4 linked regions of the Homo sapiens genome follow. The protein of the gene in region 1 interacts with the protein of each later gene in a pairwise test. Each region holds a gene or a part of one and is shown on either strand. Other genes may lie near its edges.

Evidence for each region.
Region 2: the proteins of CCDC33 (region 1) and BLK interact in a two-hybrid assay, tested with the Homo sapiens proteins (3 studies listed by BioGRID and IntAct).
Region 3: the proteins of CCDC33 (region 1) and NDOR1 interact in a two-hybrid assay, tested with the Homo sapiens proteins (2 studies listed by BioGRID and IntAct).
Region 4: the proteins of CCDC33 (region 1) and USHBP1 interact in a two-hybrid assay, tested with the Homo sapiens proteins (2 studies listed by BioGRID and IntAct).

Annotation. Positions count from the first base shown.
Region 1 is NC_000015.10:74,232,090-74,239,341, reverse strand, and holds the start of CCDC33 (coiled-coil domain-containing protein 33), read right to left. Parts: upstream 3,017-7,252; 5' UTR 2,623-3,016; coding exon 2,602-2,622; intron 1-2,601.
Region 2 is NC_000008.11:11,553,387-11,560,411, forward strand, and holds part of BLK (tyrosine-protein kinase Blk), read left to right. Parts: exon of another isoform or gene 1-194; intron 195-743; exon of another isoform or gene 744-817; intron 818-1,356; coding exon 1,357-1,503; intron 1,504-1,945; coding exon 1,946-2,098; intron 2,099-2,199; coding exon of another isoform or gene 2,200-2,465; exon of another isoform or gene 2,466-2,476; intron 2,477-2,679; exon of another isoform or gene 2,680-3,271; coding exon 3,272-3,451; coding exon of another isoform or gene 3,452-3,529; intron 3,530-4,503; exon of another isoform or gene 4,504-4,575; coding exon 4,576-4,652; exon of another isoform or gene 4,653-4,879; intron 4,880-7,025. UniProt on the Homo sapiens protein: Non-receptor tyrosine kinase involved in B-lymphocyte development, differentiation and signaling. B-cell receptor (BCR) signaling requires a tight regulation of several protein tyrosine kinases and phosphatases, and associated coreceptors.
Region 3 is NC_000009.12:137,201,268-137,208,702, reverse strand, and holds the start of NDOR1 (NADPH-dependent diflavin oxidoreductase 1), read right to left. Parts: upstream 3,004-7,435; 5' UTR 2,926-3,003; coding exon 2,791-2,925; intron 2,472-2,790; coding exon 2,394-2,471; intron 1-2,393. Other genes in the region: TMEM203 (transmembrane protein 203), read left to right, coding at 3,289-3,699. UniProt on the Homo sapiens protein: NADPH-dependent reductase which is a central component of the cytosolic iron-sulfur (Fe-S) protein assembly (CIA) machinery.
Region 4 is NC_000019.10:17,248,646-17,254,745, forward strand, and holds the end of USHBP1 (harmonin-binding protein USHBP1), read right to left. Parts: intron 3,373-6,100; coding exon 3,266-3,372; intron 3,060-3,265; coding exon 2,937-3,059; intron 1,770-2,936; coding exon 1,580-1,769; 3' UTR 526-1,579; downstream 1-525.

The sequences.
Region 1 (7,252 bases):
AATGGTCCTTGAATTCAGCTCCCGCGGGTGGGTTGGGGGGTGCTTAACTTGGTTCTGGTGGGGAGAGAGATGGAAGGAGACAAACTCTTCCACCCACTCCTCCCTATCCTCCAGCAGCCTGGGAGGCCTGAGGAGCTGAGCCCAGTTCTGCCCTCTAGAAGGGCCGTGTGTCTGAAAAGTCACACTAGCTGGAGCGGGGCTGGGCTGGGAGGCAGGGTGCCTGGCTGCCCGGATCTGTCATTTGGGCAAGTTACTTGACTGCAGTGGGGCTATTTCCCAGCAGTTTCACAAGGACTTTCAGTTAAAAATGGTCCCCCATGTTCCTTCTAGTTTCAACATCTAAACTTGCCTGAGAGTTATGGCGGCCAGGGGAAAGCTCTTTCACAGGTGAGGAAGCACACTCAGAGAAAGTAAACCTCTTGTATGAAAGCACACAGCTTAGCTAGTGAGGCCAGGGCTGGAACTGGAAGCTGGGTCTGTCTGACCCCACACTCTTGCTGTCTCTGCTGTGCTCTAACCATGCTTCCTTGGATGTGGATCCCTTCTCTGCTCCACAGTGGATGCCCCCCTGAACTCATAATCTGAGTATCCATTGGTGGCAGCAAGAGGAATTATGTTCTTTGGAGCAGAGAAGCATTCCAAAAGATGACACAAAAGTCAGAAATCATTAAAAAGGGATAGGTTTGATTACATTTTAAAAATCTATACTAACTTCTATAATGGTCCAAAATGCCCTGCAATACAAAGAAAAGAAAAAAAGGAGAAAATGTTTGCTGCATATTTAAAAAAGGATTAATATCCCTAGTATACAAAGAGCACTGAAACCTATAAACATTATCCAATTTAAAAAACATGAACTGGGGATTCACAAAAGAAGAAACACAAATATGTATTATATATACATGATGAGCATCCTTTTTTTTTTTTTTTTTGAGATGGAGTTTTGCTCTTTGTTGCTCAGGCTGGAGTGCTGTGGTGCTATCTCGGCTCACTGCAACCTCCGCCTCCTGGGTTCAAGCAATTCTCCTGTCTCAGCCTCCCGAGTAGCTGGGATTACAGGTGCCCGCTACCACGCCTGGTTAATTTTTGTATTTTTAGTACAGACGGGGTTTCACCATGTTGGCCAGACTGGTCTCGAACTTCTGCCTTGGCCTCCCAAAGTGCTGGGATTACAGGAGTGAGACACCAGGCCTGGCCAACGTCCTTTTATTTTTGAGGCAGAATCTCACACTGTTGCCCAGGCTGGAGGGCAGTGGCGTGATCTCGGCTCACTGCAACATCTGCCTCCCAGGTTCAAGCGATTCTCCTGCCTCAGCATCCTGAGTAACTGGGATTACAGACGTGCACCAACACACCCAGCTAATTTTTGTATTTTTAGTAGAGATGGGGTTTCACCATGTTGGCCAGGCTGGTCTCAAACTCCTGCCTCGGCCTCGCCAAGTGCTGGGATTACAGGCGTGAGCCACCACCCCCGGCCATGATGAGCATCCTTATAGGCGATTCTACCCAGCTATCAAAAGCGCTTCTCAAAGCTACTAATCAAAGCAACCTTGGCTCCTCCTCAGGACTCCCACGCACACTCCCCAGATCCCCAAATCCAGCTCTGTGGGGCAGGTGGGGACCAGCTGGCAGCTTAGGGTGCCAGGTCAACCTGGTGACCGGTTCTGAGTGTGTGGCATTACAGAAAGAGGCTTAATGGGGAGGGCAGAGTCTGCAGGGGGTGGGGGGCAGCTGTGGGCAGAGAACATCAGGAACCAGAGACATCAAAATCAAGAGTAATGAAGTGGAAATCACACTAGGGCCTGGGCACCCCCAGCTATTTGGCTTATTCAACCTGAGTGTAACTACAAAGAGGGTATCCCCCATTTGCAAGTATCTGTGTGCCTTTGGTCTCAGCTCCTTCTGCTATCCCTGTGGGTTAACACCATCTAGGGCAGGGGCTCAGCCTTGCTAGTGAGAGGAAGGTAAGGGGTCCCTTACATTCAACTGTTTACATCTCATCACACTGAGATTCTAGTCCCTTCCTGACAGAGCCCTGCTGCTGGGCCACAGCTTTTTATTAAGCACCCACTATGTGCCAGGCACTGTTCTGAGTGCTGGGGATACGGTGATCAACAAAACACACAAAAATCCCTTCTCTTCAGAGACCCAAGCATCTGTGTTCCAGGACAGGGGCCTAGGCCCCAGAAAATCAGGGCCAGGGATTGGAGAGCATGGGGGCAATGGGGGCATCAGGGCTGCCAAGCCAGCAGCCTGGGAATCTCCTGGGAGATCTTGGACAGGGGTAATGAACCATCTCAGTGGGCTCTCAGACTGTGTGACCCCAGCAATAAGAGTGCAGAAACAACCAGGTAAGGGTGGTCAGCATTGACAACACCTGCAAGTACACTGCATTCCAGTTCCCGTGTGGCCCAAGAGTATAGGGCAGCTAACCTGGGAGAGCCACAGAGACCACCTCACTCCCCATTTCACAGCTGTGAAAACTGAGACCCAGGGAAGGGAAGCTTTTGTCATGATTAAGGAGCAAACAAAACTTTGAAGGAAGGACTTTGAAGGAGGGACGGATTCATGCAGGTGCATGGCCCATGCCCCTGGCCTTACCTTTTTGTTTTTCAGTCCCATCCTCTTGAGGCCAGGAGTGTCTGGCCTTGTTTAACAATCTTGGGGATGAGTACTTGGTATCAGTGGGTGATCAGGAATCAGTCCTGCCCAGACAGCTGGCCTGGGCGTCTTGGAGTCCTTATGGGTAGTAGACAGTATGGAGGTCAATGTGGTCTCAGGGGTGCCACACACCAGCCCTGGGGCCTGGATGTGGGGGGAGGGGGAGGGTGGCCAGGTGGGAGCAGGTCCTGGATCTCTCAGCAGCGAGATGGTCTGTGGGTGGAAGGGCCTTGGGGGTTGAGGGCCATGGCCAGCTGGACAGGGTCAGCAATGAGGCAATTGACTCTTGGCACACCTAGGACGGTGGAGAGATGGGGCAGGGGGGCCCTGTCTCTGCCCAGGCCTGGAAAACAATAAGCTCTTCCACCTAGCTGGGTCACCTGGGCAACACTGTGTGATGTCACAGGGCAGGGCCGAAGTCACACAGGCACCTGTCCAGGTGCAGTGAGCTAGAACGCGAAGCCCTTTTCCCTATTCCTGGAGCTGTGTTCCACCTGCCGCCTGGCACTCAGGCCCCACCCTTCCTGCTCTTGGTGCCTCAAGTAGTCTCCACCAACCCTGTGGTGTGGCCAGCCCCATGCTGCTCAAGCTGCAGCAAAAGAGGAAGCAGACACTGCTCTCAAGAGTGTTGCAGCTTGATCGGTAAAACAGCTACTTCTGTTGAAGAATCTACCAGCCATCGTGCCTCTTTGGGTACCTATAGTCTTCCATTTATTTGATAATAATAAACACAAACTTCAAGAGGATGGTTTCTTCTTGGAGGGTGGGTGGGAAGATCGGGGAGAGAAGAGGGTAAGAGCATACATTCTAAACTTTTGGGTTTTTAGATTGGGTGGTCAGTTAATGGAAATTCATTACATTATTGAAAATAAATTATAATTAAACAATTAAAGAAAGCCATGATGGGTCAGTGATGGCACTAGAGTACGAACCAAAGATTATGGTTCAGTTCTGAGCACTGCAAGAAATTATTACAAAGACAAAGAGCATTTGCTGCACGCCAGGCAGGGTCCTAAGTGCTTTTGGTGAGGTGAGATGGCAGAATGAAGAGAGACTAGTCCTTGGCCTGGGGTGGGGGGTTGCTCTATAGAGAGGTGAGGTCTGAACTGGGCTTCGAAGAATGATCAGAAATCCTGGGCTAGAAGAGGAGGGATTTGGGGTACTGGGCAGTGTTCAGAAGTGTTTGGGGGGCCCCTGTGGCCTGCCTCATTTCTACCTATTTTGGGCCCCAAGTTGGAGATTCTTTTAATCTGGCCGAAGAGCAGGACCAGCCTGGCAGCCAGGAGGCAGGAGACTCCGGCTTTGCAGAGGCCTCCCAGCCTCCCTCTCTACCCCCACTCCAGAGAGAGCAGCAGCAAGGATGTGGTTCTCCCCAGTTTAGAGACAGAAAAACTGAGGCTTTGCTTTTGATTAGAACTGAAAGGACCAGCCAAGGTCACCCAGACACTGGTGGGGGATGGTAGTCAGGAACCCCACTCCTAATTTTCTCCCCGTCTAGGCCTGCCAAGAGTGGTACTCCTGGGGCTCTGGGGCTGGGGGCCTGACCAGGAATGGCCTGGCTGTGAGCACTGTGCTTTATCTCCCTTGTGGGCCAACATGTCCCAGCACAGTGTGTATGTGTGGAAAGGTCTCAGTGGCTGCTCCCCCAGTCTCTCTAGAGCGCATCTCCCCCAACCTCTCAGGCCTGCTTAGTCTAGGAGGCTAGGGCAGCAGGTTCAGGGGGTGGGGAGCCATTGCTCCTTCTCTAGCAGCAGGACTGAAGATGCAAGCCAGGTGCCTAGGAAGCAAACTTTAATGAAGCACTCATTCTCAGGGCTGTGCGAGCGCTCCGCTCCCGACACAGAGCCTCACATTTTGTGCCCTGGCCACCTTGCCTGCCTCACTGTGGTCCTTGCCCTGCCCTGCAGCTCTGCCTCAGTCCCCGGGGCTCGGGGCTCTCACCCAGCTACCCTCCTTGGCATCTGAGCTTTCTGCCTCTGCAGCCACGCCCCTGCCATCTTCCTGCCTGGGAAGATAATGCGATTGGGCACTGGTTCCAGGCCGTCTGGCTCCAGGGTGCAAGTGGGCCCTGTGCACTCAGCAGCCACCAGTAGGGCCCTTCTACCTCCTGACTTGCTGGTTGTTCACCTCCCCAGACCAAGGACCCCTGAGACACCAGCTCCTGTGCCTGTCCTAACCTCCCCCGAGAGCTGCTTCCTCCTTGCCTGTGAGAAGGCCTTAGCAGCATGAGCCCAGCTGCTCTACCTTCTCCTCCCCTTCCTCCAGCAAGGTGAGCTCTATATCCCCAGCCCAGAGAAGTGGGCTTGCTCCTCAAATGTCCAGGGGCCAGCCCCAAGCTGTGATGATTCAGGGAGATTCCAGGGTGAGGGAGAGCAGGGAATGATTAATCTCACAGCTAATAGATAACTGTGCCCACCCCCTACCCACAGGAGACAGCACTTGGAGCTATATCACTAGGAGGGGCCAGGGGTTAAATGTGGCCACTAGAGAGCCCATAGTTCTGGGAGGGGCAAGCCCCTGAGGCTGGATCTGGGGCTGGCTCTTGGGGAAGGAGGGATCTTGCTGGCTGGACAGCAAGAAGAATCTGGGTAGACAGATGTGGCTCATAGTCAGCCCTGCTTCCTCATGCCATGTCTGGGGCCTGGAGTCTGAGGAAGCAGCCTGTGAGGACAAACTACCCATGCAATGAGACTCAGGGGAGTGTGTCTGTCTTCCAGAGACGCCCCCGCCTCCTGACTTGGCCTTTCCTTCCCTGTGAGTCCTGTCCCACCCCCACATTTGGGCAGCTGAGTTGGATGAGGTGGGAAATGTAGGCAGTGTGATTTTGTAGCAAATGGCAGCTCAAAGCTGTGTGATCTTGGGCAAAATGTTAACCCTTTCTGAGCTTTGGTTCCCATCCTTATTCAGTGAGGCAATCAGGGCTGCTCTGTGGGCTGAATGAGACCACGCAGGTAAAGCTCTTAACACGGATGGTTATGAGCTCCAGGCATGCTCGCTTTTCCCTGCTAACCAACCTTGGGCTTGGCAAGTTCTCTCTAGTGCAGCTCTGGGTGGCAGTGACTTCAGTTTAAACCCAGCTCAGCACCTTAAGGGGTGGGGTGTGAACTGGCCTCAAGGGGCCCAGTTAGAGCCCTTGTGGAAGCACAGGGCAAAGCCAGCTCTCCAATCTCTCTGCAGAAACTCCTGAGGCTGAGCCTCATAACTTATATGAGGTCAGAGCAGCCCTCGAAGGTCCTGGCCAGCAGCCGGTGGATTCAGAGCGGGGAGCCCTCTCAGAGTTTTCCATCCTTCAGCCAACAAGTGAAGACCTGCTGTCTACACCACTGGGGCCGAGGGTGCGTGGCAGTGGGAGCATAGAGACCCTCTAAAGGAAATGCTTCAGTAGACAACAGTCAAAATAATCAAAGGAGGGGCAGGGACTTGCCCTGGTCCCACGCCCCTGCCTCATGTTTCTTACATACCAGGAGTGAACTTGCAGCTCCAGAAGCAGCACACACACAGGAGGTGTTGCTGTGGACCAGGAGGACTGCACACACGTTCAGAGCAGGAGATAAAGGGGTCGAGGAAGGCCTCCGGGATGAAGGGCCTTGAGCAGGACCCTGAGAACACATTGGATTTAGGTAGGAAAGGGGACATTTCTGTTGAAGGGCTACCTGAGAAAGGTGCGGCCATGGGCGTGGGCCTGGAAGCCGGGAACAGAGAGGGGATAGAGAAGAGGGCAAGTGGGCCTGGGATGATATCTGGTCTGGGTGGGTGTGAAGGCTCAAGCGCTGGTGGAGACATGCAGACTTCACCCCATGGCCATTTCTCACTTCTCTGGCCCATTCCAGTGGGGGAGAACTCACCAAGTCCAAAGTTGGTTAGCAGGGAAAAAAGCAAGCACGTCTGGGGGACTTCACTGTCCGCGTTAAGAGCTTTACCTTCATGGTCTCATTCGGCCCTCAGAGCAGTCCTGATTCTCCCACTGGATAAGGACGGGAACCAAAGCTCAGAGAGGGTTAACATTTTGCCCAAGATCACACAGCTATGAGCTGCCATTTGCTATAAAATCACACTGCCTACATTTCCCACCTCATCCAACTCAGCTGCCCAAAAGCAATGGAGAAAGAGTGATAGGGAGATATGGGGGAAGGGGCAAGAGTCAGGAAAAGAGAAGGCCAAGTGTGGGGGCTCTGGGAGAGAGGCACACTTTCCTGGACTCTGCCTGGCAGCCAACTCTCTCCATACAAGTGCCTTTCCAGGTTATGGTCATTGTTCCCTCTTGTCTCTTCAAACCTAGGAGTCAGGGAAGGCTTCTCACAGGTTCCAGCCCCCAAGGCGCTGTAGTCTCCCTCTTGTTTTTCCTAAACCCCACCCTCAGTATTGTAAATAGTCCCTTTATTAAACTCCCCTCAAGCTCCTGAATTTGAATGCCTTCTTTTTCCTGGCAGGACCCTGGCTGATATACCTGCTGTGTGAGCCCCTCTCCATGGCCCAATCTCTCGCCCCGCCTGATGTCCTGGTATTACTGCTGTCATCGTCACCACCAGCCCCTTCACACCCCCAACTTTTAGTGAGCACTTACTGTGTGCCAGGTCTCATGCCAAGAGTT
Region 2 (7,025 bases), on another chromosome or scaffold:
AGGTTTTGTGAAACTGAAGCTGATAGGATCTGAGGTCGTCTTTACAAAGGACACCAAATTGTCAGAAGCCATCAGGGACGGGGCCTCAGAGCAGCCAGGCAAGTGAGGGGTCTAAAGCACCAGCTTGGGAAGCGTCACTGCGTGGAGAGCGGGCTCCTGGGCTCATCGCCCGAGGCACCCGACACAAGTGCAGCCTACAAAATGGAGAGAAAAGCCCTTGATGAATGAACTCCCTAAGGCCAGGCTCGGGTTCCTTAGAGACTGGGGGCACAGCTGCACCCGGGCAGGGTCGGGGAGACAGTTTGCAGCCTCTGGGCTGAGGCTGGGGTGGGGGTGTGGAGGGGCTGTGGCAACAGCATGGCGTACGCCTCTGGGTGTCCTTTTGCAAGTAGGTGATGAGAGAGGCACATTGGCTGAGGGAAACTGGAGGATGGAAGGGGGTTGAGGCAGGGGAACTGACAGGAGAGGAAAGAGCCTTAAGTCAAACAGGACCGCGGAAAACCAAGCGTCCACAACGAGAACGAGGGGTCCGTGCCTGACCCCTGGCGGGGAGGCGTGGTACTGCTCGAGGTAGGCGCGGACTCGGGGAACCGGGAGCCCCCCAGCCTGCCGCGAACTCTGCTGGGCCCCAGCGTCCTCATCTCCCAAATAATGGGTAAGGGGCGGGGTAAGGTCATGGTACCCAAGTAGCTGGACAGACGCATTTTATAAAAACATCAAGTTCATGGAAAAGCGTTTCTTACCTGGAAATTCTTACCTCCTAAATTGTCCTTAACCCTTGACATCTGCTACCACTTGCCTGCGGGAAAACATTAACCTAGAAGACAAAATAACAGGTGTATGTAACAGGCAGCAAATGACTTTGAACAGAGCCCCTGGGCATAGCTTATTACGGTGTCCGCCATGGACATGGGTACTTGCAGCTGTGAATGGCTATCTGCTTGTAGGAGTAAGAGATACCCTCTTTAGCCAGAAAATAAAGCCCCTAGTCACTCCAACGAGACTAGATTTCTCAATAGTCCATGACAAAGGGTCCCCGAGTGACCAGATGCCCAAGTGGGGACCTACATGATTGCTGAGAAACTGTGCTGCCTGCCGCAGGGCTCTGTGATTCCCTGGCTGAGTTTTGCAGGATAGTGGGGGGATGCCAAGGTCAGAGTCAGATGGAACTTACAGGGGAGGCTTCCAAAAGCATGGAGGTTGAGATGCAGGGAAAGGAAACTTGTGGAGGGAGTGCTGATAATGAAGAACAGAATTGGGGAACTTTTTTCAAAGCTTTAAAATGAGGCCCAAATCCCAGTCCCGTTTTTTGTCTTTGTGCCTTACTTCTCGTGTGTGTCTTCATGAACCCTCCAGGTGCCTTCTCCCTGTCTGTGAAGGATGTCACCACCCAGGGGGAGCTGATCAAGCACTATAAGATCCGCTGCCTGGATGAAGGGGGCTACTACATCTCCCCCCGGATCACCTTCCCCTCGCTCCAGGCCCTGGTGCAGCACTATTCTAGTAAGAGGGGGCGTGCAATGGGGGCAGGGACTTGTGCCAAGAGCCCCTGGATCTCTCGCTAAGATTCCCAATTGTGTGAGTCATTGGTGCCACCTTGGGGGATGGAAAGATTATCCCAAAGTTAGGCCTAAGGAGGTAGCAACTCTGAGCACCGGGAATTGGTGGCCCTAATTCCCTCTCCTGGCTCAGCAGGGAACCCCTTAGAGAGTAGCAAGCATTTTCAGTCTTAGAGTGAGCAGGTCGATTTTAGAGATAGCATGCCCTGCTTTGCGCAAACGAAGAGAAAGAGTTGAGTGTGTGTGCATGTGCAGGCGTGTGCACACACCCATGCAGGGGGTGGGGTGGCTGGGGAGTGGAGGGCCAGCTAGGAATGATACAGCTCCCAAGGTAGAGCCTGGCTGCTCTGGTAACCCCCAGCCCTGTCTTTTCTTCCCTAATGCAGAGAAGGGGGATGGTCTATGCCAGAGGCTGACCCTGCCCTGTGTGCGCCCGGCCCCGCAGAATCCCTGGGCCCAGGATGAATGGGAGATCCCCCGGCAGTCTCTCAGGCTGGTCAGGAAACTCGGGTCTGGACAATTCGGCGAAGTCTGGATGGGTGAGTGTGTGCACACGTGGGAGCATTTCTCCCCCCATTCCACCTGCGCCGCATCCTGAGTCCAGGTTCAGCATTTTCATAGCGTGTCATCCCTCCCCCAGAAGTCTTGAGAGGGAGCGAGGACAGAGGCGAGGACACTCATTTTACAGAGGAGGAAGTGGAGGTGCAGAGCCGCGTTGTAACAGCTGGGACCGCTTATGGTGGTGGCAGAGCAGGAACAGAATCCAGCTCACCCAGCCCCGAAGTCGCTCCCTCCTTCGTTCTCTGCCTGAAGCTGGCTTTGACAATGAGCTGCAGCGGCGCGTTAACTCCCCTTAGCTTTTCATCACCCAGATGGAAACAGGAGGTTAAACGTGATGAGCCATGATGTTCCAGAGCCTGAGTGCACACCGAGGGCAGCCGTGGGACTTTGGCCAAGTCACTGAAGCTCCAGGCCTGGTGTCCTCACATTTCCATCGCTGCTGACACCTGCCCCCTTCCCCCCCCCGCCCACCAGGATATAAAACTCGTGTTCCGTTTTATCCCTGGATTGGTCCATGAGTCCTCCCTTACCTGGGGCTGGTCCATGAGTGCTCCCTTACCTGGGGCTGATGCCCACGGTGCTTTTGGCAGGAGCTGTACCCAGGTCCCTGCCAAGGCCCATGTCCTCTAGAAAAGCAAGTAGAGTTGTCTTTTGCCCTTCAGGGGACTTCATGGAGTACAGGGAGAGTGTGGAGATACAGATAGTTTAAGGAGTGGGACAGGATCGCCATGGGGCTTCAGAAGGAGGGAAGGAGACCCCCATGCGTCATCCTCCTGCCCAGTGTACCCCAGGCTGTGTGCTTATTTCCACCAAGGAGTTATTGTGTGATAGAAGAGACTCATTATGTAGGGGAGGGGTGGGGGAAGGACACAGGTTCCGTGCAGGACAGAAGGACACAGGCCCAGGGTGTGGGGCAAATAGGTGAAATGCCCCCCAGGCAGGGTACATTCCTCCACTGCCTGAGGCCCCATATAGAAGGGACCTGGAACGCAAGGTAGGCACCACACAACCATGGCCTCCGGAACTGCATGTTCCAGCTCTGGCACCTGGAATGGGGTGGCACCTGGGCACTTACCCCGATTTTGGTTAAGGGATCACCTCCGAGCAAGCTCTCTGTCTTCTGATTGGCTTCTTCACTCCCCCGGGCTCAGGTTACTACAAAAACAACATGAAGGTGGCCATTAAGACGCTGAAGGAGGGAACCATGTCTCCAGAAGCCTTTCTGGGTGAGGCCAACGTGATGAAGGCTCTGCAGCACGAGCGGCTGGTCCGACTCTACGCAGTGGTCACCAAGGAGCCCATCTACATTGTCACCGAGTACATGGCCAGAGGTGGTGCCCCCCGCAGAGCCGCATCCTCAGAGCGAGGCGGGAGGGCCGGGCTTAGCAGGAGGAGGAGGGTCCGCTGCGGTGGGTTCACCAGGCCAGGGGGTCCTGCAGATCTAGGGCATGGCACGGTGTGGGGACAGGGAGGGATGGAGGGAGGGGGAGGGACAGAGGGAGGGTGAGAAACAGGAGGGTGAAGTGGTTCTGACAGAGCCATGTTCTCAGCCCAGGAGCAGTTCAGACAGCATTTCTGGAGTGCATCTTCTGTGCCTAGCACTCTTTGATGCCTGCTGGGAGGGACAGAGCATTGCAAAGTCAGACGAACACCAGGCCAGGCATGCAGGGACAGTACTAGATCCAGGTCTCCTGCCTCCTGGTCATGCAACCATTTACAACTGTGTGAATATTTTACAAGGATGGCCAGAGAGGTTGGGCTTGATGGCCTCTGAGGTCCACGGCGTGGCCAAGTTCTCATGCCACTTTCTCACCCTCCTATGACCCTGACCGCACACTGCTCCTATAGGATCCTAACATGCCCATGTTGATATAGCTCCCTAACAACTGTCACCAAGGGGCCCCCGGTCGGAGGCTGTGCTGGGGGTGCCTCTAGCCTGCCCCTAGGGCAAGCATCCATCCCTCCCAGCTTTCTGATTCCAGGGGGAGCTGCATTTGTCCCCTGCACCAAACCTGGGGGACAGTTCTCTCCATTCTGGTGCTTTCTTGCTGATGCCTGGTCCTCAGAGGCAGAGGGTGTCTGCCAGCAGGGATCAAGGGAGCGAGGCCAACACGGGGGGAAAGACAAGAAGGGGCATGAAACTTCGAGTCAGAACTGGGGTCCCACTCCCAGCTCCCGGCTGGGTGACTTCAGACAGGTCCCTGCACCTGGCTGAAACCTAACTTCTGGGCAACTGCTGGTATATTGGCTGCCTCCCGGGGTGCTGAGACTGGCATTTTGTAAAGTGGAAGGCACTCGGCAGCAGTAGGTAGATCCTTCCTGATGCACCGAGAGATCTGAGGGTGCAAACTCCCACTTCCCGCGCCCATGGGGAGCCACTCACACCAGAGAGAGGCTGGCACCACCAGGGGCGGGTCACTTTGCAGAAGGGCACTTGCAACTTCTCTTTTCTTAGGATGCCTGCTGGATTTCCTGAAGACAGATGAAGGGAGCAGATTGTCACTCCCAAGGCTGATTGACATGTCGGCGCAGGTTGGTGAAGTACCAGGTGCAGAGAAAGGGCGGCATGTGCCACCTGCTGCCCACAATGGCTGCTCGTGCCTTACCACCCCATCCTCTCAGCCAGCAGGAGAAGTCAGGGGGTACTGAAGGCCACCTTCCTCTAGGCAGATATCCCCAAGGTCACCCACTGCACTTGGACTTGCAAACCCTGGCCACTGTGCCTCCTGCCCCACGCAGCTGTGAGGGAGCCCAGGGAATGGAGCCTTAGACCCGGGCTGCTGTGTTGGAATGAGGCTATTCTGTTCCGAAGGAAGAGAGGGCGAATGAATGTCATGGGAAACACACAGAGTTAGCAAGAGTTCCATTGAACCCGGCAGGCAAGTGTGTTCTGTTGTGACCTCATCTCTTCCTTAGATGGTGCCCACAAACATCTCCTGTAGGACTTCCCATCCCAGGGGCCCTCAGCCTTTGCACAGCCCTGGCGTCGACCCCAGGCTGATGGGCAGGCCTGAGCTACACACAGATGCCAGGGACATGACTTCTCTGAGCCCTGGAGGACAGCCCCACCTTCTGCCACCAGGGAATTGCGAGTGCTGGACCTCCTTGGCTACCCAGGACTGGTCCTCAGTGTCCCTCACGTTCACATGCAGAACTTTCTGGACTCCATGGGGTGAAGAGCAGAGTGGAGAGGAGGGTTTTAGCCGAGAGCTCTAGCTGGCAGGAAGCACATCTGGTGGCCCTGTTAAAACTGGAACTCTCAGCAGAAAAGTTTTGGTCTGTGGTCAGCCTGTGAGGCACACACGTGCGTACACATACACACACACATACAGCTGCCACCGAGAGGAAACGCTCCCACCCACCGCCCACATCAGCCCTCCCACCTCGCCCCTCGCCCAGCCTTACCCAGTAGCGCCGCTGCAGGAACTGATGCCACAACGCCTTTTTCCGCTGAGGTGGGCAGACAGCCATCTGGGCAGGCTGGTTTTGGAAAATGAGTGCTGGTAACCGGCTTCAAACCCCAGGGCAGTGATAAGCCTGCCCACTGCTGCTGCTTCCTTTCCCCTTCCTTCTCTCACCCTCCGCTGTCTCCTATTCAATCCCCACTACACCCCCTTGGGAAATCTCGTGTGACCCAGGGGCAAAGGATGTGAAAAGCCATCGGAGTTTAATACCTGGATGTAGCCACAGAATCGGGGGTGAGGAGCCAGAAAATCAGAACTTCCCAGAAGGGCAGCCTCTAACCACATGCTGACCATGCCAATGGCTCTCTAAGCACACATGTACACACACACACTCTCACACACATAAAAACACAGACTCACACACACACGGACAAACACAAACACATACACAGACTCACACAGACACGCAAACTCACACACAGACAGACACACACACAGACACACAGACTCACACACACAAACTCACACAGACACACAAATACACAGACTCAGACTCAAACACAAACTCACACAAACACATTTACACAAACTCACAAACTCACACACACAAACACACACACAAACACGCAAACTTACACACACATGAGCAGACACACACCCGGCCCTTCTGGGCTCTTCTTTTCTTACTCCATAGGAAGCCATGCAAAGTCTCGCCAGACCTTTCTTCCAAGGCCAGATCTGGCCAACCCCACAGGAACCCTGCAATCACAATCCCTCGGGCCCCACTTTGCAGCCAGATGCCACCGGTTCCCATGCCCCATGCCTCGCCACCCCTCTACCTCCTCTGCCCAGGAAGCCTTGAACACTTCCCACCTGGCAGAATCCTTATCATCATCCATGGCTCAAGCGTAATGTCATTTCTATGAAGGTTTCCCTGGACAAGAAACTGCCAGAGAGCCCTTAGCTCAGGTGTTCCCGGAAGCACTGTTCTTGCTCAGCAGATCTGGGCAGCTTCTTCTTGAAAGCAGATCTGGGCCCTACTCAACATTTTTTAAAATATATTTCTGGTACTGTTCAATAAATATTAGTTATCAGAACGAGTACTGTTAGATGCTGCCCAGATATATTTAGTACTCAGTTTTATATTCCCCACAGTCCCATATTAGTAAATGAGTATTGATTGCATGGTGTAGCAAGGGGATGGATGGATGCATGGATGGGTGGATGCGTGGGTGGGTGGGTGGGTGGGTGGGTGGGTGGATGGATGGATGCATGGATGGATGGATGGATGGATGGATGGATGGATGCATGCATGGATGGATGAATGGGTGGATGGATGGATGGGTGGGTGGGTGGGTGGATGGATGGATGGATCCATGGATGGATGGATACATGGAAGGATGCATAGATGGATGGATGGATGGATACATGGATGGATGCATGGATGTGTTGATGGATGGATGGGTGGGTGGATGGATGGATGCATGGATGGATGGATGCA
Region 3 (7,435 bases), on another chromosome or scaffold:
ACAGGCATGAGCCACTGCACCAGTTCACTTTGAATTTTCTGTCTCATGATGCTGCCCAGTCTGGTCTTGAACTCCTGGGCTCAAGCGATCCTCCCACCTCGGCCTCCCAAATTGCTGGGATTACAGGCATGAGCCACTGTGCCCGGCAAACGTCTCTCATAAAAAACTCCTTCTTTTTAACTCTTTAGCCTTTTCACAGCCAGATGTGGTTTTTTGTTTGTTTGTTTTGTTTTTTGTCTTTTTTTTGTTTTTGAGACGGAGTCTCGCTCTGTCGCCCAGGCTGGAGTGCAGTGGCGCGATCTCGGCTCACTGCAAGTTCCGCCTCCCGGGTTCACGCCATTCTCCTGCCTCAGCCTCCCGAGTAGCTGGGACTACAGGTGCCCGCCACCACATCCGGCTAGTTTTTTGTATTTTTAGTAGAGACGAGGTTTCACACCGTGTTAGCCAGGATGGTCTCGATCTCCTGACCTCGTGATCTGCCTGCCTCGGCCTCCCAAAGTGCTAGGATTACAGGTGTGAGCCACAGTGCCCGGCTCTTTTTCTTTTTTTTTTTTTTTTTGACAGAGTCTAGCTCTGTCACCAGTCTGGAGTGCAGTGGCGCAATCTCAGCTCACTGCAACTTCCGACTCCCTGGTCTAAGTGATTCTCCTGCCTCAGCCTCCCGAGTAGCTGGGATTACAGGCACGCACCACTGCGCCGTGCCCAGCTAATTGTTGTAATTTTAGTAGAGACGGGTTTCACCATGTTGGCCAGGCTGGTCTCGAACTCCTGACCTCGTGATTCGCCCGCCTCGGCCTCCCAAAGTGCTGAGATTACAGGCGTGAGCCACCGCAGCCGGCCCGCACTCAAGACATTCTTAAAAGATGCTCTCCACTCACTCTCTCAGTTGCTGATCTCCTGTAATCTGGCTTCTCTCCCCATGAGCCACTGAAGCTGCTCTTCCTGGTATCACCAACAATCCCTTTGCCAAGAAATCCCATGGATCCCTCTCAGGCTTTATCTGATTTGACTTCTGTGCAGCTTTACATGCCAGAGCCCTTCCTGGAACACTCACTCCCCCAGTCCTCTCCTTGGGGTGCTGCACCCTCTCTTCTAGCTGCTTGGTCACTCTCCTGCCCTCCTGGGCTCTAACGTTCTGGGCAGCCTGTCCTGTGGGGAGAGAGGAGCTTCCTCTTCTCACACTTCTGTATTGTGGCTACCTCAACACCTATCTCCGCCCCAGGATCTTCCTTGGAGCGCTAGTCCTACTGCACTTCTCCACTTCAATGTCTCCAGGTTCCCTTCCTGCACAGCCCCCTACTCCCACCGTGTTCTCTGATTTCTGTGGATGGAACCACCATCCATCTTGGTTCCAGAGCCCACATCCCTGTCTCGATTCTGCTTGACCTATTGGGTCCGTTCCATGTCCCGGGGACTCTCTCTTCCTGACACCACTGCAATGTGTCCACTTCTATCTTCTGCCACCACTTCAGCTCAGATCGGTAGCATCTGCTGCCTGTCCTGTGCATCTCATGGCATTATTCCTGCTGTCCTGCAGACCAGTGCGGTTTTGCTAGCTTAGGAACATGACTGTGTCACCCCTACAGTTCCGACAACCCTTCATTTCAAGCCCATCTGCCTTGCTGTGGTTACTCAGGCTCTTTGGACTGGGCCTGGCTTCCTGCCTCTCTTCTCCTCCCCTCTTGCCCCAGTGTACTCCTCAGCTTGGCCACCCTGAGCTGCTTTCCACTTTTCACACAAACCAAATCATCTTTTTCCTCTGCGCTGACTGCTCCTTCTTCCTCGGTGCCTGACTAGCCCTCACGCATCCTTCCGTGACTCAGCTTACACTCTTTTCTTCCAGAAACCTCTGCCTGGGCCCCAAGGTTGGGTGAGATAAGGCTCGATGCCCCTTATCAGTGCTCCTGTGACATATGCTACTTTCCCCAGCAGCAGGTGTTTGCTGGCACTGTCATTGCCCGTTAGCTGCTTCTGCTACAGTGTGAACTCTGCCAGGATGGAAATATGGCTGCTGGGTTCACAGCTGGATCCCCAGCACCAGACTGTGCCAAGAATAGAATATGTGCTTAAAAGATGGTCAGAGAATTCAGCAACGTTCCCTGAGGGTCATACAGTCTAGAAATACACACAAGACCCAGACTAGATGCACATATAGATAGCCCTGGAAAAATAAGAAAGGTTAAAACGGATAATAAGGCTATTTGGTGGCTACGACGAGTTTATTAGAGAGGGCAACCGGAGCCCCCAGCCCCACTCACGGACGTTCTCTCAAATCCACCTCTGAAGGTGCATGAGATAAAGGAGAGCTATTTACTGCACCTAGACGCCAGGCAATGAAAACGGGGTGAGGGTCGAGGGCAGGGATCTGAGGAGCCACATCAGGCCAGCCTTACCTTCATGTTGTCAGGGGGGTCTCCTTGGCCTGTAGTTGCACAAACAAATATCACCAGGGGCTCGTTAATCAGATTCACCTCAACAAAAAGACACACACACGTAAGACCTCCGGCTGTAAGGACCGGGCGTCCTTCCCAAAACTTGACCCCCTTCTCCTTTACTCAGGCTGACAGGGCAGAGGGATTTATGTGAGCAGCCAGACCGTCTTCTCTTTCAGGTTCCAACCTCCTCCAGGTGCTAAACTGAACTCCCCTTCCCAAACCTCCTTCCCTAAATCCGCCATAAGGGAAAGACCCGCTCTCAGAGAAAATGCGACGCCTTTTGGGTCGATGACCCCGCGAGGCGGGCACGCCAGGCCTGCTCGTCCCCCACGCCGAGGCCCTAGCGAGCCCTCACCACCGGGTAGGAGTCCAGGGCCTGCACCCGGCAGCCAAGCCGCCGGCGCCGGGCCTCGCGACCCAGTCTCTCCGACACATCCTGAGCCGTGCCTGTCTGGCTGCCGAAGAGCACCAGAAGCTGCGGGCTCGGCATCGGGGTGCGCCCGGTGGTCTGGTCTGAGACTAAAAACTAGAAGGCAGTTCCCGCCGGCCGGGTTGCAGGGACCGCTCCGCCTTCCGCCTTCCGCCGTCGACCGGAAGTGACGCACTAGGGACGCGCCCTGTGGGGGCATGGCGTCCGATCGAGGCGGGCGTTCACGGGCGGCCAGGGTTGAGTCCCGGGTCGGGGCCGGGGGATTGCCGGCGCATCAGGGCCGAGGGCTGGGGCTGGCGGGGCCGCTCGCTGCCTCTCGCTCGCAGCAGCGGCGGCAGGCGCGGGCGAGGGCCACGGGGAGAGGAGACGCAGCCCCGCGGGTGGCACGCTCGGCCGGGCCCCGGCCCGCGCTCAACGGGCGCGATGCTCTTCTCGCTCCGGGAGCTGGTGCAGTGGCTAGGCTTCGCCACCTTCGAGATCTTCGTGCACCTGCTGGCCCTGTTGGTGTTCTCTGTGCTGCTGGCACTGCGTGTGGATGGCCTGGTCCCGGGCCTCTCCTGGTGGAACGTGTTCGTGCCTTTCTTCGCCGCTGACGGGCTCAGCACCTACTTCACCACCATCGTGTCCGTGCGCCTCTTCCAGGATGGAGAGAAGCGGCTGGCGGTGCTCCGCCTTTTCTGGGTACTTACGGTCCTGAGTCTCAAGTTCGTCTTCGAGATGCTGTTGTGCCAGAAGCTGGCGGAGCAGACTCGGGAGCTCTGGTTCGGCCTCATTACGTCCCCGCTCTTCATTCTCCTGCAGCTGCTCATGATCCGCGCCTGTCGGGTCAACTAGCCTCACCGAGGTGCCGGAGAGGGAGCGCTGGACAACTAGAATGTTGACCTCGAGCCGAGGCCCTACTTGCAGCGCACCGGAGGAGAGGCTCTCTAGTCTGAAGGCACCGCCGGCTTGCGCCGAGCTGAGTGCCGGGTTTCCCTATTCCAATCCTGTTTGAAATGGTTTCTTCAGCAGGGCTTAAAAGAGCAGCCTTCATCCTGAAAATGTATTTCCTTTTGTTTAATGCTTTGAGTAGATAATCCTGAATTGAGGTCATGAGGAGGCCCCCCAGGCCAGACAGTCCTGAACCCCTCTGACACTTGGAAACTGAATATAAGTAAAATGTCCAGGTGGACTCTGAGTATTTCCTGTGGATCCTGGGAAAGTACTGTTGCACAAAGGCTGCAAAGCTGGACTCAGGAATGTCCTCCAACCAGCAGCGCTGACCTAAGAGCTCCCTGTGCCGTCTATCCAGACCAGACTTCGGTAGATGCCTTTGTTAGATCTATCACATGTAAACGAGCTTGTATCTCCTTCCCTGTGCCACGAGAGAGATTGGCTTTTTATTCCAGTCTAGGCAGAGACAGAAGAATGTTGAATAAGAGCACGATTAGAGTCCTGTCTGGTTATCTGTTGCCCAAGAAAAGAACTCTGCTGTCCAGGCACTGCTTGGCTTACTATCCCAGCAAAGACTGCAGTTTTGTGGACTTTTGACCACCTTGGGCTGGCACTCTTAGCACACCTGAGACAGATTTAAGCCTCCCTAAGAGACTGAAGAGAGGAACAGGTGTCAGATACTCATAGGCACTGAGATCTACAAATGGGAAGCTTGTGAGTGGCCCATCTTTGTTGGCCTACGAACTTTGGTTTGATGCCAGTCAGGTGCCACATGAGAACCTTTGCTGAGATGCAAATAAAGTAAGAGAATGTTTTCCTGAAATGAATAGTGGTTGCCTGTAACCCTCAAGGGTTAAATAGGATGAATATTGAGATACTCTCTGCTACGTGGTGTAGCTGGTTACAGAGCTGCGGTTTTAAATGGATTGAAACCTGTGGCTAGAGCTTAGTGGATGGTGGTGGTGGGAATCACTTGTTCTGGAGAATCCCTCCTTCCTGCTCTAGGAGGTGGGTAACTCAGGCACCCCCCCCCCCACCCTGTATGAAGACAACAATCTGGGCTCATGTTAAAGACCCATTGAATAGTTTGTGACCCCAGAGCCCATGACTTCTTGCCAGAGTGTGGTCTTTGTGGGCCTTGTTGGCACTCTGTAGAGCAGGGATCAGCAAACAATGTCCTAAGGCCTGTTTTTGTATGACCCTTGAGCTGAGGATGGTTTTTACACCCCTAAATGATTAAAAGCAAAAGCAGGCCAGGCGTGGTGGCTCACGCCTGTAATCCCAGCACTTTGGGAGGCCGAGGTGGGTGGATCACAAGATCAGGAGATCGAAACTATCCTGGCTAACACGGTGAAACCCTGTCTCTACTAAAAATACAAAAATTAGCCGGGCGTGGTGGCGGGTGCCTATAGTCCCAGCTACTTGGGAGGCTGAGGCAGGAGAATGGCGTGAACCCGGGAGGCGGAGCTTGCAGTGAGCCGAGACAACGCCACTGCACTCCAGCCTGGCCAACAGAGCGAGACTCTGTCTCAGAAAAAAACAAACAAACAAAAAAAAAAACAAAAGCAGAACTTGTGACAGAGAGTGGATATGACCCTCAGAGTCCAAGGTCTCTTAATTGGCACTCTTGGCCTTTGGGGCCAGAAGATTCTCTAGTGAGGATGCAGTCTGTTTCGCAGTGCTCCTGCCTCTCCTGGGTAGATGCCAGTAGCAGCCTTCACTTGTGACAAGCAGATGTTTATCCAGACATTGCTAAGGGCCCTGGGGAACAAAATTGTCCCTGGCAAAAACCAGTGGGCTAAAATATTTCCTGTCTGGGGCCAGATGCGGTGGCTCACGCTTGTAATCCCAGCACTTTGGGAGGCGGAGGCGGGCAGATCACGAGGTCAGGAGTTTGAGACCAGCCTGACCAACGTGGTGAAACCCCGTCTCTACTAAAAATACTAAAATTAGCTGGGCATGGTGGCGCATGCCTGTAATCCCAGCTACTCAGGAGGCTGAGGCAGGAGAATTGCTTGAACCTGGGAGGCAGAGATTGCAGTCAGCCGAGATAGCACCACTGCACTCCAGCGTGGGCGACAGAGCGAGACTCTGTCTCAAAAAAAAAAAAAAAAAAAAATTTCCTATCTGGCTCGTTACAGAACAGGTGTGCTGACCTCTGCTCTCATGCATCAGCCTGGCCAGCGGAGTGCGGTGTCAGCCTCTGCCTGGCGTGTATGCTTAGTTGTGTAAACCATGGAGGGGCTTGCGTTGGAGGCAGCTTATCTGGTTTGTTGCTACGACACTGTGTCCAGCCTGGGATTGGCATAACTTTTGTCAAAGCCAGATTCAAGCTGAACAGTGGGAGTGAGTTTCCTCGTAATGTTATTTATTTCTAGATTTTGTGTTTTGTGTGTTCCCCTGTTTTATTTTGGTAGTTCAGAATTGGGCAACCCTACTAGGGTAGAAGTGATGAACATCAGATGCTTCCTTTAGAAAGGTGATTTGAGGAGGGCCCTAAGGGAGGAGACACTTGGCTTCTGGAAAGCTGAAATGAAAGTTTATTCTGGCCAGGCCCAGTGGCTCACGCCTGTAATCCCAGCAGTTTGGGAGGCCAAGGCAGGCAGATCATGAGGCCAGGAGTTCGAGACCAGCCTGGCCAACATGGCGAAATCCCGTCTCTACTAAAAATACAAAAATTAGCCGGGCGTTGTGGTGGGCACCTGTAACCCCAGCTACTTGGGAGGCGAAGGCAGGAGAATCGCTTGAATCCTGGAGGCGGAGGTTGTAGTGAGCCGAGATCGTGCCACTGCACTCCAGCCTGGGTGACAAGAGCAAGACTCTATCTCAAAAAAAAAAGAAAAAGAAAAAGTTTATTTTCTCCAGCTTAATGGAGTGGCAGGAGAATAAGGCAAGCATTAAGCTAGCGGCTGCTGCAGACTGTCATGGGGCACAGAAGCTGAGAAGGGCATCCCCAAGTTAAAAAAAAAAAATCTGTTCTGCATCATTGCAGAGACCCAGGCGACCTTGGTGTGGGAAACAGCAGTGTCTACTGAGCAGGCTGCTGACTGCAGGGCAGGTGATGGAAAGAAGGTGATGTCCGTGCACTCCAATTCCCCTTCTCCCCGTGACTCCAAGCGATCTCCCTATTGTCTGCAGGCTTGAAAGGCTGTGGAAGCACTCTGAAGCCCTCCCTGGGGCAGAAGGGACTTGTCAGCCGGGAGGCTGTGCCCTCAGGGTCATGGTATCCGGAGCCTTGATGAGGGGACGTTCAACCGATGGGAGAGGAGTAACCTTAACGTGGCAGCAGGGTGGAATAATCAGACACAGGGGTCGGCCCTATGGGGCCCACCGTTACCCTGGCTTTTTTTTTTTTTTTTTGGCTCTGAATGCATTGGAGAGCTCTCCAAGCATGCAGGGCCCTGCCCTGGTGAACCTGCTTGCGTGTGGCGGGAGAGGCTGCTTCCTTTGTGCCTGCTCCTGCAGATGCTTTTTGGGGACCACGGATGGCAAGGTTGGGTTAAGAGGCTCCCACCTGGGCAGCCTATAAAAACTAGGGATTTCTGAGAAACTGGTTCGTTGGGGCTGCTCGGGGCTCCAGAATTGGCATTTCCAAGCCCCGCAGGCACCTGCCGGAGGTCGGAGGACCCCTGGTGAA
Region 4 (6,100 bases), on another chromosome or scaffold:
CTGCCACCCTGAAGGGGGACAGCTGGCCACTAATCCAAGCTTGGCTGGGTCGTTCCAAGCTCCCCTTTCCCAGACTCAGCCAGTCCTGGTGTGGAGGGGCAGGGAGATGTGACTTATGCAAATGACATGCTAATTCATTGCCTGCTATTAACCTGACACGTCCCACAGCTCCTGGGCCCCCAGGAGAAAGCTGGAACTGGCCACCATTGGCATTCATTCTGAGTTTCTCTTGAAGTACAACGCCCCCTGAGTCCCAGACTATTACCTTTGCTATGCCTGTCCCCCACCCAGAAACCCTTTACCTTATTTTATTTATTTATTTTTGAGACAGACTCTCCTATTTTGCCTAGGCTGGTCTTAAACCCCTGGGCTCAAGCAGTCCTCCTCCCTCGGCCTCCTGAGATACTGGGATTACAGGCAAGCTCGACCACATGGAGTCCAGAAACCCTTGACCTTAGCTTTGAGTTAGTAGCAACTCGTCATCCACACCCTGAATCTGAACCATTCCAGCTTCAGTCTCCCTCCTTTTTGTTTTGTTTTGTGTTTTATTTATTTATTTAGAGACAGAGTTTTGCTCTTATTGCCCGGGCACGATCTTGTTGTTGGCGCGATCTCGGTTCACTGCAACCCCCGCCTCTCAGGTTCAAGCAATTATCCTGCCTCAGTCTCCCGAGTAGCCGGGATTACAGGCATGTGCCACAACACCCAGCCAATTTTTGTATTTTTAGTAGAGACGGGGGTTTCACCATGTTGGCCAAGCTGGTCTCAAGCTCCTGACCTCAGGTGATCCTCCCCGCCTCAGCCTCCCAAAGTGCTGGGATTACAGGCATGAGTCACCACGCCTGGCCTGTTTTTTTTTTTGAGACAAGGTCTTACTCTGTGACCCAGACTGGAGTGCAGTGGCGTGATCTCAGCTCACTGCAACCTCCACTTCCCAAGCTCAAGTTACCCTCCCACTTTAGCCTCCTAAATATCTTTATAGGCACATGCCACCACGCCTGGCTAATTTTTGTATTTTTTTGTAGAAATGGGGTTTTGCCATGTTGCCCAGGCTGGTCTTGAACTCCTGGGCTCAAGTGATCTACCCACCTTGGCCTCCCAAAATGCTGGGATTACAGATGTGCACCACTGAGCCCGGCCCCCTTCAGGAAAATCTGCCAGCCAAACCCAGCATCTCCCTGGGAAGGGGCTGCCAGGAGAAGCTCTGTCCAGTCCCCATGAATCCCTCCCTGGGCTTCGGGAGACAGGCCAGTTGGAACTTCAGCTGTGGCTATGCAACCTCACGGACCCCCGAAATGCGTCAGTCCCAGGGACCTGGTCCCATAGCCCAGGTTGCTTCTGGCCTGACCCCACTGATATGAAGTTCACATTCCACTTGGTGCCAGGCCAAAGACACCTGAGTCTTTCTTCATTGCCTGGCCACACCCCATCAGGCCCTGGACACCCATGTGCACCAGCTTCCCTCACGCCAAATGTGCCCCAACATGCCAAATCATGCAACATGACATGATGTCACTCCAGGACAGTTTATGACATGCCACAGCTGTCTGGCATGTCCAGACATGGCTGGGTAAGGGGCCTACAGAAAGGTGTCCCCAAGCTGGGGAGGCGGGAGGGGAGGCCTGGGCTTCCCCAGGGCCCTTGCAGTGGCTTCGAGCACCGCCACCTCCTCGGCCTGCTGAGCCTCCATGAGTGCCATCTGCTGCTCCAACTTCCGGCGTTGCTCTTCCTGCTTCCGGTGGGCTCCTCGGAAGGCCAGGACCAGGGCGCTGGAAGGGGTGGGTGGCTGGGTCAGGAAACAGCCCCCGAGTCCACCCAAGGCAAGGGCCGTGTACTCCCACTCCCAGAATGGGGGCTCTTTCACATTGGGTCTCCAAGGGTCCCAGCTAGCTGGTCTTTTGTTGTTGTTGTTGTTGTTGTTTGAGACAGAATTTCGCGCTTGTCACCCAGGCTGGAGTGCAATGGTAAGATCTCCCCTCACTACAACCTCTGCCTCGAGGGTTCAAGTGATTCTCCTGCCTTAGCCTCCCAAGTAGCTGGGATTACAGGCGCCCACCACCACGCCCAGCTAATTTTTTTGTATTTTTTAATAGAGACAGGGTTTGACCATGTTGCCCAGACTGGTCTTGAACTCCTGACCTCAGGTGATCCGCCTGCCTCAGCCTCCCAAAGTGCTGGGATTACAGGCGTGAGCCACCATGCCCAGCCTGTTTTTTCTTGTTGTTGTTTTTTGAGATGGGGTTTCGCTCTTGTTGCCCAGGCTGGAGTGCAATGGCACAATCTCGGCTCACTGCAACCTCTGCCTCCCGGGTTCAAGCGATTCTCCTGCCTCAGCCTACCGAGTAGCTGGGATCACAGGCATGCGCCACCACGCCTGGCTAATTTTGTATTTTTAGTAGAGATGGGGTTTCTCCATGTTGGTCAGGCTGGTCTCGAACTCCCGACCTCAGGTGATCTGCCCACCTTGGCCTCCCAAAGTGCTGGGATTTCAGGCGTGAGCCACTGCGCCTGGCCCAGCCTGTTGTTTTTTTTTTTTTTTTTTTAGACAGAGTCTTGCTCTGTCACCCAAGCTGGAGTGCAGTGGTGTGATCTCTGCTCACCACAACCTCCACCTCCTGGGTTTAAGCAATTCTCCTGTCTCTCAAGTAGCTGGAATTACAGGCACGTGCAAAGACGCCTAGCTAATTTTTGTATTTTTAGTAGAGATGGGGTTTCACCACGTTGGCCAGGCTGGTCTCAAACTCCTGACCTCAAGTGATCTGCTGGCCTCAGCCTCCCAACATGCTGGGATTACAGGTGTGAGCCACCACACCTGACCGTTACTGCCTATCTTGGGGCAGTGGGGAATGCTAAGGCCCAGAGACAGCCAGGGATACTTCTGATATCCTGGTGGGGGATGGTGCCAGGGGGATTGGGGGGATGCAGAACAGTCCTACCTGTGGGCTTTGCATAAATCCCTGTTCAGCTCGGCACTCTGAGACCGTCTGGCTCGCCCCTTCTGAGCCACCTGTTCCAGCTCCCTGCGCAGAGACTGCAGCTGCTCCTGCAGGTCCAGTGTCCTGTTGCGAAGGAGAAGAGAGGGGGCTCACAGCCCCAGCCGATCCTGTTTCCCAGGTCTCCTCCTACCCACCTGCCCACAGTATTGTCATGTAAACACACCTGTACACCGGGGTACACCTTAGCTTCTACTGCAGACGACACCCCCGGGGGCTCTCACATAGGCTGCCTGCCCACCCCCCGCACAGCCCAGGACCCAGGCACACACCTGGTGAGCGATGCTGCCAGTTCCTGGGCTAACTTCTCTGGGTCCCAGGCTCTGCCCACCTGGCCACCATCAATGCCACTGGTGCCACCAGGGACAGCAGGAAGGCCCTAAGGGAGGCAGAAGACAAGAAAGTGACATTAACCTAGGCCAAGTCCGTGCTTGGCCCACACTGGACATTGGAGCTGCCCAGACAGTGGCAGCTGCTGTGCTCTCAGAGACCCACATCTGGTTCGATATACCAATAAGAGCAAAATTATACTCTGATAAGGGAAATATCCTATTTAATTAAAAAAAATTTTTTTTGAGACAGAGTCTCACTCTGCCACCCAGGCTGGAGTACAGTGGCACGATCTTGGCTGACAGCAACCTCCGCCTCCCAGGTTCAAGCGATTCTCCTGCCTCAGCCTCCCAAGTAGTTGGGATTACAGACACATGCCACCAGACCCGGCTACTTTTCGTATTTTTAGTAGAGACGGAGTTTCACCATGTTGGCCAGGCTGGTCTCGAACCTCATCTCTAAAAATAAAATTTAGGGGCCAGGTGTGGTAGCTCATGCCTGTAATCCCAGCACTTTGGGAGGCCAAGACGGGTGGATCACTTGAGGTCAGGCGTTCAAGACCAGCCTGGTCAACATGGTGAAACCCTGTCTCTACTAAAAATATAAAAATTAGTCTGGCATGGTGGCAGACCCCTGTAATTCCAGCTACTTGGGAGGCTAAGGCAGGAGAATCGCTTGAACTTGGGAGGCGGAGGTTGCAGTGAGCCAAGATCATGCCACTGCACTCCAGCCTGGGCAACAGAGTAAGATACGGTCTCAAAAAAAAAAATTAGCCAGGCATGGTGGCGGGCACCTGGAGTCCCAACTAACTGGGCGGCTGAGGCAGGAGAATCACTTGAAGCTGGGAGGCAGAGGTTGGAGTAAGCTGGGATCGCAGCACTGCACTCTAGCCTGAGCAACACAGTGAGACTCTGTCTCAAAAAAAAAAACAACAAAAAAACAAAAACAAAAACTAGAGATCCACTGGAAGTCCTTCCTCCTGTCTAATCCTTGTTTGAAATAATAATAATTTTTTTTTTGAGAAGAGTCTCGCTCTGTCGCCCAGGCTAGAGTGCACTGGCGTGATCTCAGCTCACTGCCAGCTCTGCCTCCCGGGTTCACGCCATTCTCCTGCCTCAGCCTCCCGAGTAGCTGGGACTACAGGCGCCCGCCACCATCCCCAGCTAATTTTTTGTATTTTTAGTAGAGACAGGGTTTCACCGTGTTAGCGAGGATGGTCTCGATCTCCTGACCTCGTGATCCGCCCAACTCGGCCTCCCAAAGTGCTAAGATTACAGGCTGGGATTACAGGCATGAGCCATCGTGCCCGGACAGTAATAATTTTTTTTTCTTTTTTTTTTTTTGAGACGGAGTCTCGTCGCCCAGGCTGGAGTGCAGTGGCGCAATCTCGGCTCACTGCAACCTCCACCCCTCCAGGTTTAAGCAATTCTCTGTCTCAGCCTCTGGAGTAGCTGGGATTACAGGCACGTGCCACCATGCCCAGCTAATTTTTTTGTATTTTTAGTAGAGACAGGGTTTCACCATGTTGGCCAGGCTGGTCTTGAACTCCTGACCTCATGATCCACCCGCCTCGGCCTCCCAAAGTGCTGGGATTACAGGTGTGAGCCACCGTGCCTGGCCAATAATAATTTTTTAAAAATTAGGCTGGACGTGGTGGCTCACGTCTGTAATCCCAGCACTTTGGGAGGCCGAGACGGGCGGATCAGCCTGAGGTCAGGAGTTTGAGAGCAGCCTGGCCAACATGGTGAAACCCTGTCACTACTAAAAATACAAAAATTAGCTGGGTGTGGTGGTGCACGCCTGTAATTCCAGCTACTCGGGAAGCCAAAGCAGGAGAATCGCTTGAACCTGGGACGCAGAGATTGCAGTGAGCCAAGATCGCACCACTGCACTCCAGCCTGGGTGACAGAGCAAGATCCGTTTCCCAAAAAAAAAAAAAAAGAAAAAAAAAATTAAAGGCCAGGCGCTGTGGCTCATGGCTGTAATCCCAGTACTTTGGGAGGCTGAGGTGGGCAGATCACCTGAGGTCAGGAGTTCTACACCAGCCTGGCCAACATGGTGAAACCCCATCTCTACTAAAAAATACAAAAATTGGCCAGGCACGGTGGCTCACGCCTGTAATCCCAGCACTTTGGGAGGCTGAGGCAGGTGGATCACAAGGTCAGGAGATCGAGACCATCTTGGCTAACACAATGAAACCCCGTCTCTACTAAAAAAATACAAAAAAAATTAGCCGGGTGTGGTGGCGGGCGCCTGTAGTCCCAGCTACTCGGCAGGCGGAGGCAGGAGAATGGCGTGAACCCGGGAGGCGGAGCTTGCAGTGAGCCGAGATTGCACCACTGCACTCCAGCCTGGGCTACAGAGCGACACTCTGCCTCAAAAAAAATAAAAAATAATAATAAATAAGCCGGGTGCAGTGGCTCAAGCCTGTAATCCCAACACTTTGGGAGGCTGAGGCGGGCGCATCACCTGAGGTTCAGAGTTCGAGACCAGCCTTAGTAACATGGGGAAACCTCATCTACACTAAAAATACAAAAATTAGCCGGGCGTGGTGGCGCGTGCCTGTAGTCCCAGCTACTCAGGAGGCTGAGGCAGGAGAATCACTTGAACCCAGGAGGTGGAGGTTGTGGTAAGCCAAGATCGGGCCATTGCACTCCAGCCTGGGCAACAAGAGCAAAACTCTGTCTCAAAAAAAAAAAAAAGAGATGAGGTCTCGCTGTGTGGCCCAGGCTGGAGTGAAATGACATAATCGTGGCTCGCTGAAGCCTCCAACTCCG